2 linked regions of the Homo sapiens genome follow. The protein of the gene in region 2 purifies or fractionates together with the protein of the main gene of each other region. This does not show direct contact. Each region holds a gene or a part of one and is shown on either strand. Other genes may lie near its edges.

Region 1 (3,500 bases), on a different chromosome or scaffold from region 2:
GTCAGCCACCAGGCCCTCTCTGAACTCCTCACTTGACCCGGAGGCATTGGGAGCAAACACAAAGCTCGCCCCTGGTGTCAGTGGTGCAGACAGAGGAAAAGCAGAGGGTCCGCAAAATGCAACTCCTCCGTGGTGAGACTTTGAAAAGGTGTAGAGTGGTTGCAGACAAACAGCAAAGGAGTGGAATGGAAAAATCTCTCTTGCTCCCCACAAGAAGTCCACTCCCCTACGGATTCCTCAGATGCCACTGGCTGGCACAGCCTTTCCCGCCCTTGGTGTGGGAGCAGCAGAAGTCCAGCGGGGGTGGGAGAATCATCGGGGTCAGGTCAGTGTCTCCCTCGTCTGAAGTCAACCACTACTTTTCCCTCAAGCCTACCAAAGAGCTAAAGTCTGATCTGTAGATGTCTGATGGTTTGAGGAGAAGAAAAGATAGTCTTTTAGAGAAGTGGGGAGTATCCAACTTAGGGTCAAAATACACTGAGATTAGGCCGGGCACAGTGGCTCACACCTGTAATCCCAGTGCTTTGGGAGGCCGAGGCGGATGGATCACTTGAGGCCTCCAGGAGTTCGAGACCAGCCTGGCCAACATGGCGAAACCCCGTCTCTACTAAAATACAAAAAATTAGCTGGATGTGGTGGTGGGTGCCTGTAATCTCAGCTACTCAAGGAGGCTGAGGCACAAGAATAGCTTGAACCGGGAGATGGAAGATGCAGTGAGCCAAGATCACGCCCCTGCACTCCAGCCTGGGCGACAGAGACTCCGTCAAAAAAAAAAAAAAAATACATTGAGATTACCAGGTGGGGTATGTGTGGTTCTTCCAGGAAAGTGCTGAAAATATCACCCAGGCCTCTGCGCCACGCCCTGGGAGAGTACACTCCTGGGCTCACGCCTCTGCATTCCAAGGCTGACAGCTAGAAATATACTTTGTAAAATACCAACAACTTATTCACAAATATTCCAACTATCTACCAGCTCCAATGAGCTTGCTGAGGATGGGTATGACCCCAGTCTAAGGGGAAAGAATCTAAAACACAAGTAAACCTGTTTAAAGGCCAGATCTCCAGATGGAGATCCAAGCAGATGGCGCCTAAGGTTTGCCCTTGAAAACTACCAAGGAAGCCACAGAGAGGGATCTTTGGACCTTCTGGAAAATGGTAAGGCCCCAGGTAGATTATGGCTCCTCTGCCCTGGAGGCTGAGCCGCCCCTCTGGTTACCTCACATCTTCTGGTTTCTTCTGAGTGGGACTTGATCTCATTTCTGCATTCACAGCAAGGTGGAACTGTCTGGCAAGAGCTTAAATTAGGACCTGTGGTGGGGACTTTAATAGGCAGGTGGAGGTTTGAGATCCAGTGAGATGCCAGAGATTAGTCAATAGGTGAGGAAAGATTTGGCCCAAATCAAAAGAGCTAAAAAAAAAATAATAAAATAAAAATAAAAATAAAATAGTTGAACAAATAAGGTTCATGAAAAAAAAAGAAAAGAAAGAAAAGGTAAAGAAAAGAAATCCATGATAAAATATCAAACTTTTTAATAAAAACAAGTCTGGCCCTGTACTTGGATGACCCCACCTGGCTTGTCTAACCCTAATCCCAGCCCCAGTTTTAATAAAACTGTATTTACAAAATAGGCAGCTGGGACGTGGACCAGAGATACCAATTTGATTTTTTTTAAATATTACATTAAAATATTACATCATGTGTCTTCATTACTGAGTTTTGGGGTAGCCCTTTAAATTTTGTATGCAAGGTGAATACCTCACCCCTCTCTCCTGGCCTAGAATCTGGGGGATCCTCCTGTCCCTCCCACAGTGCCTGATAGCACAGCCTGGGGCTGGTGGTGTGCCTGTTTGCCTAGCTTTATCTCTCCAGATACTATTTGGGGTGTGCTGTTCTAAGAAGTGATTAGGTTAGCTTTTGCATATTAACAAACTACCTCTGAAACTTAGTGGCTTAAACCAACAAATGTATTAGCTTTATAATGATTTGGATCAGTGATGGGGGCTGGGCACGGACAGGCGATTCTTCTGCTGGGCTTGGCTGAACTCAACTATGTCTTATGGTCAGAGGGCAGTCAGGGGCTTCGCTCATGTCTGGTAGTTGGCTGTTGGCTGAGCCCTTGGTTCTCCTCTGGCTTAGGCTTGTTCACATGGTGGCCTCGGGGCTCCCATGGCAGTTAGAGAAATCAAGCCCAAGTCTCATATCACGTTCACTATTCTCCCATTGTCCAAAGCAGACCACATGGCCAAGGCCCAAGTCTGTGTGAAAGGATGTGGATACAGGGACCCCGAATGAACCAGAGGCAATACTGCTGCAAGCTACCACATAGATGCTGTTCAGAGCTTTGCAGGACCAAATCTTTTAGGGCTGTTTTTCCATTGTGGTATACCCTCTCCATTTAGATTCAATTGAACAAATATATTCTTTGGGGCTGCAGTGTGTCAGATGTGGAGACATGGTCCCACTGGCTTTCAAGTTGCCATCCATCTTCTAGGGAGAATTTCTGGCCTTTTCGGATGGCATGGTCCAGGCCGGAGCACCAGCCCCAGGTTGAAACATCAGGCAGGTTTCTAGGAAATGGTTGCAAAATTAGCAAAAAGTCAGGGCTACAGAGCCCTATCCAGAGTCGTCATCTTAAGGTGTCTACTAAAGCCTGGGGGTGGATGGGATCTCAGAAGGGGGACTAGAGAAATAGGAAACTGGGGACAGAACCCGGGGGTGAGAAAGAAGACAGCAGGTGTTGTGGGAAGTCAGGGACCCCAAACGGAGGGACTGGCTGAAGCCATGACAGAAGAACGTGGATTGTGATGATTTCATGGACATTTATTAGTTCCCCCAAATTAATACTTTTGTAATTTCTTATGCCTGTCTTTACTACAGTCTCTAAACATAAGTTGTGAATATTTCATGGACACTTATCACTTCCCCAGTCAATACCCTTGTGATTTCCTATGCCTGTCTTTACTTTAATCTCTTAATCCTGTCAGCTGAGGGGGATGTATGTTGCCTCAGGACCCTGTAATAATTGCATTAACTGCACAAATTGTACAGCATGTGTGTTTGCGCAATATGAAATCTGAGCACCTTGAAAAAAGAACAGGGTAACAGCAATTGTTCAGGGAATAAGAGAGATAACCTTAAACTCTGACCACTGGTGAGTCGGGCGGAACAGAGCCATATTTCTCTTCTTTCAAAAGCAAATGGGAGAAATATCGCTGAATTCTTTTTCTCAGCATGGAACATCCCCTGAGAAAGAGAATGCACACCTGGGGGTGGGTCTCTGAACTGGCCCCCCTCCCCCGGGGGCGTGGTCGTCTCTTATGGTCGAGGCTGCAGAGATGAAATAAACTCCAGTCTCCCATAGCGCTCCCAGGCTTATTAGGAGGAGGAAATTCCCGCCTAATAAATTTTGGTCAGACCGGTTGCTCTCAAACCCTGTCTCCTGATAAGATGTTATCAATGACAATGGTGCCCAAAACTTCATTAGCAATTTTAATTTTGC
Region 2 (4,197 bases):
TGTAAGATGCTGCAACTGTTATGAAAACAGTTTGGCAGTTTCTCGAAAAGTTAACCATAGAATTACCATGTGACCCAGTAATTCCACTCTTAGGTGTATACCAAGAAAATTGAAAATAGGGATTCAAACAGATACTTGTACATCAGTGTTCACTACAGCATTATTCACAATAACTAAAAGATGGAAACAACCCAAATGTCTATTAATGGATGAATGAGTAAACGAATTGTGGTATATATATACATAGAATGGAATACTATTCAATCATAAACAGATATGAAGCTCTGATACATCCTACAACATGGATGCACCTTGAATACATTATGTTACTTGAGAGAAGACACAAAAGGACAAATATTGTATGATTCCACTTTTATGACATGAAGTATCTATAATAGGCAAATTCCTAGAGACAGAAATAAGATTAGAGGTTTCTTAGGATTGAGGGGAGAGGAAAATGGGAAGTTGTTGCTTAATGGGTACAGAATTTTTATTTGGGGGTACTAAAAAGCTTTTGGAAAAATATACTGGCGTATTCCACAACATTGTATCATGGAATTGTCACTTGAAAATGGCTAAAAATAGCAAATTTTAACACACATATTACAACAATAAAAAATAAAAAAGTAAAGGTTTGTCAGGCATTTAATAATTAATACCTTTCATTGTTTTTGTCTGGAAAGAGTGTGTGCAAAGATACTTAACAACCAAATGTAATGTGTGATCCTTGATCGGCTCTTGCATTTTTTTTTTTTTTTTTTGAGACGGAGTCTCACTCTGTCGCCCAAGCTGCTGGAATGCAGTGGCGCGATTGGCTCTTGCTTTCTAAATAAAATGCCTATAAGATATTCTTAGGACAAGTGGGGGAAATTAAATCGGGAAGAGAATTATTATGAAATTAATGATCTTAGGTATAATAATTGTACTGCGGTTATGTAGCAGAACATCTATTCTTAGGAGATACATGCTGCAATGTTAAAGGGTTAAGTGTTACAATGTCTGCAATGTTAAAGGGTTAAGTGTTACAATGTCTGTAACTTACTTGCAAATGGTGACCCCAAAAAGGTGTGTGTGTGTGTGTGTGTGTGTGTGTGTGTGTGTGTGTGTGTGTGTGTGTGTGTGTGTGTCTGTGTACGCGCTTTGGAAGGCTACAATTGCGAGAAGCGCAGGTCTCCGCCACCGAAGCTTTAGACTCATAAGCCGGGTCAGGCCAAATTCCGCTGTGCGTAGGGGAACAAACGGCACAAACGGGGCACAAAAGGGGAACAAACGGCATACGCAACCGTCCCCGCGGGAGCCCCGGCCCAGCTCAGCGCACCCGCCAGCATGCCCCACCCTGATTGGTCCACTTGCTCAGCTCGCCGGCACCCCTATATCCAATTGGCGTAGCGCTTGCTGAGCGGCGGCGGCAACCGACGTACACAAGGGGCTTGAGCGTTCTGTGGAGAGAGTGCGAGGTCAGGCCATGAACTTGGGGTAAGCAGGGGTAAGCTGGGGTAAGCTGGGGTAAGCAAGGTGGTCGTCAGCGGAGAGGGAGGCATGTGTGTCTGGGTTGTCCCTTGGAGTCTTTACTGGAGAACGTTCCCAACCTGCGCCGCCGAGAGGGGCAGAGCCCAGTTCTCGGGTAGAAGATCGAGGCAGATGGGTCGGCCCTTAGCGACTCCACAGACCTTACGTTTTCACTTAATGACTAGCATTAAAACTGCCAGTGATCCCCTTTCGGTCCCTTATTTACCTCAGGATGAGGAGGGAAGAGAGGTGAGGAGGAAAGGAGAGAAATGACGAGACAGTTAGAGGAAGCGTGGCGGCTCCTGGGGAGGACTCCTGGCCCATGCCCCGGGTTCTTCGCCACCTTGTTTTTGGAGTCTTGCAGAATGTTGAAACGCCCAAATTCGTTTTAGGCCCACGAGGCGGGGAACCAGGCTTCTCAAGAAATCGATGTAGTACCAGTGCCTAACACCTAGTAGGCGCTCCTTAAGTAGGGGTGAATAAATAAAAAGGGCTGGTGCATGGTCTTCATCACTCGCAAGTTTGATATTTTGAGAAGATGAGAAGCCACCAAACTCAGACCTAACTACACATCGTTCAGCAAATGTTATTATGTTTTAGAATCTGGGGATATGGAAATAAATAAGATAGTGTGTCCCTTAAGGAGATTACAGTGCAGTGCGTCATTGAAGGTACTTTACCATTGAAGCTCTTTTCTTTCTTGGTGACGTTTCACCAACATAAACACGAACTGTTCATAACCCTACAATAAGGAAAGCCGTAAAACCTATTCTTTCCAGTGTTTTACCTTTAATAGTTAAGGTGAGGTAATTTGATTTCCCCTACCTGAGCAACACCGCAAATTTCGCATTCCTAATCAGACCTTTCCCAGCCTCTCTCTCCCTTGACTGGCTTGCTGGATTTAATTTTCTCTCTCTGAATTATGGACTGTATGTATGGGCTGCCATTTTTGTTCTCAGTGGAGTTTTAGGACCTTAACAGACGTTCAAGTTTTGTTGGCAGTGGCTACTGTTACTTTATGCCTTTGCTTCTGATATGCACGTATAAAGCACCATACTAAATATCACTATGTATTATTTGAAATATTGAAAGTGGTACTCTTTGCTCAAGCAGTTACTAACCTTGATGGCATTGTTAGTAGTCATATCGATGCTCCAGCACTCCATAGAATGTTTTAGTCATGAGTTCATTATGAAACTAATGAATGGCGGTTAAATATATCTTGTTCCTTTAACTTATGTGAGGAGTTTTGGTAACAGCATTATTAAAAAATGGTGGTATGATAACTTAATTTATAGTTTACCAATAACAAAATGAGATTTCAGGTTAATGATAACAATGCTTGTAGTATTGAAGAGTTTCAAGAATTTTCCCCCTGTAGTTGTGGGTTTTATCTTGGATTGCAAACGTTTTTAATTAAAACACTGGTTCGATGTGTACAAGATTCCTGCATAAATTCAAAATAATGGATTTATTGTCAGGTTCAAATGAACATTTCTGGTTATTTAAAATGTTGCGGTTTGTTAAAAATGAGAGACAACTTTCTTTTTTTATTACAGAGATGGTTTAAAGCTTGAAACTGAATTACTGGATGGAAAAACCAAGCTAATATTGTCTCCATATGGTATGTTGTGTTACAGAAATCTGAAATGTTAACTTTTAAATTCATACATAAAATTTATATTAGTTCAACAGACTTTTTGCTTGTAATAGAGTGATATTTAAATGATATTTTAGAAAAAGCTGTTTCCTCAAACTTCTGCAGATTTCCTTCTAGCCAAATAAAATCAGATTACAACACTGCTTACTACTGTCAGTATTCAGACTCATAACATTTAATGTTCCAGTATATTGCGTGTTCATTATATCCATATAGCAAATATCCTCATTGCCTGATGAATAATACAAGTAAAATTTATGTAATTATGTTCTTTGCATGTAAAGAATGTATCATTTGAGAAAAGTTTATAGTAAGACCACCGTAAAATGCTAAAGTCACTTTTAGTATTCGTTTTTAAACTCAGTGTACTTTGGTACCTTCTCCTTCGCATTTTTTTTTCTGTTTATAGTTTTACCTTGGAAAGATAAAAAACAAAAATAAAATAGAAGTAAATCCTTGAACTGGATTAGAAAAAAATACTCAGTCAAGATCTAAAGTTTATGCTTTCGAGGATAATGTTGCTAGCTTAAAATCTTATAACAATATTAATTACAGTTTTCTTGCATTACCACCTTAGTATGCTTTTGGTGGATAGTTTAGTAATTTCTTTTTTCTTTTGTAGAACATAAATCAAAAATTTCTGTGAAGGTAAGCCGTATAACTTTGACCTGACCTGTTTTCAAATGTAAAATGCAGTTTTATTTATAGTGGTTAGAAAATAATTCCTGGGAAATGTCAAGTGTTCTAAGGGGTTTGGAATTATAGTGAGGAGTTATTATTTTCTTGCTTTCAGATTGGTCCTTTCACAGAAATTGAATCATTTTAGGTTTAGCCCAATAGAACCTCTTTCTCTAGATAAGTGCTATTCAGTAAAGCATCTGTGTTAATGGAAGTGTTCATTAATAAAATCAGTATTATTGAATATGGAAGCCACTAGTCATGTATAGTTATTGAACCCTTAAAATGTAACTAGTATGACTGAGCAACTGAATTTCTAATTTCCTTTAATTTTTAATGGAATTTAATGG

The links. The genes of interacting proteins can lie anywhere in the genome.
Region 1: the proteins of CCDC66 (region 2) and ARMC9 purify together in Homo sapiens (co-immunoprecipitation; one large-scale study listed by IntAct). This does not show direct contact.

What each region holds. Positions count from the first base shown.
Region 1 is NC_000002.12:231,373,131-231,376,630, forward strand, and holds part of ARMC9 (lisH domain-containing protein ARMC9), read left to right. Parts: 3' UTR 1-3,500. UniProt on the Homo sapiens protein: Involved in ciliogenesis. It is required for appropriate acetylation and polyglutamylation of ciliary microtubules, and regulation of cilium length. Acts as a positive regulator of hedgehog (Hh)signaling.
Region 2 is NC_000003.12:56,555,778-56,559,974, forward strand, and holds the start of CCDC66 (coiled-coil domain-containing protein 66), read left to right. Parts: upstream 1-1,397; 5' UTR 1,398-1,465; coding exon 1,466-1,476; exon of another isoform or gene 1,477-1,486; intron 1,487-3,068; coding exon 3,069-3,133; intron 3,134-3,791; coding exon 3,792-3,817; intron 3,818-4,197. UniProt on the Homo sapiens protein: Microtubule-binding protein required for ciliogenesis. May function in ciliogenesis by mediating the transport of proteins like BBS4 to the cilium, but also through the organization of the centriolar satellites.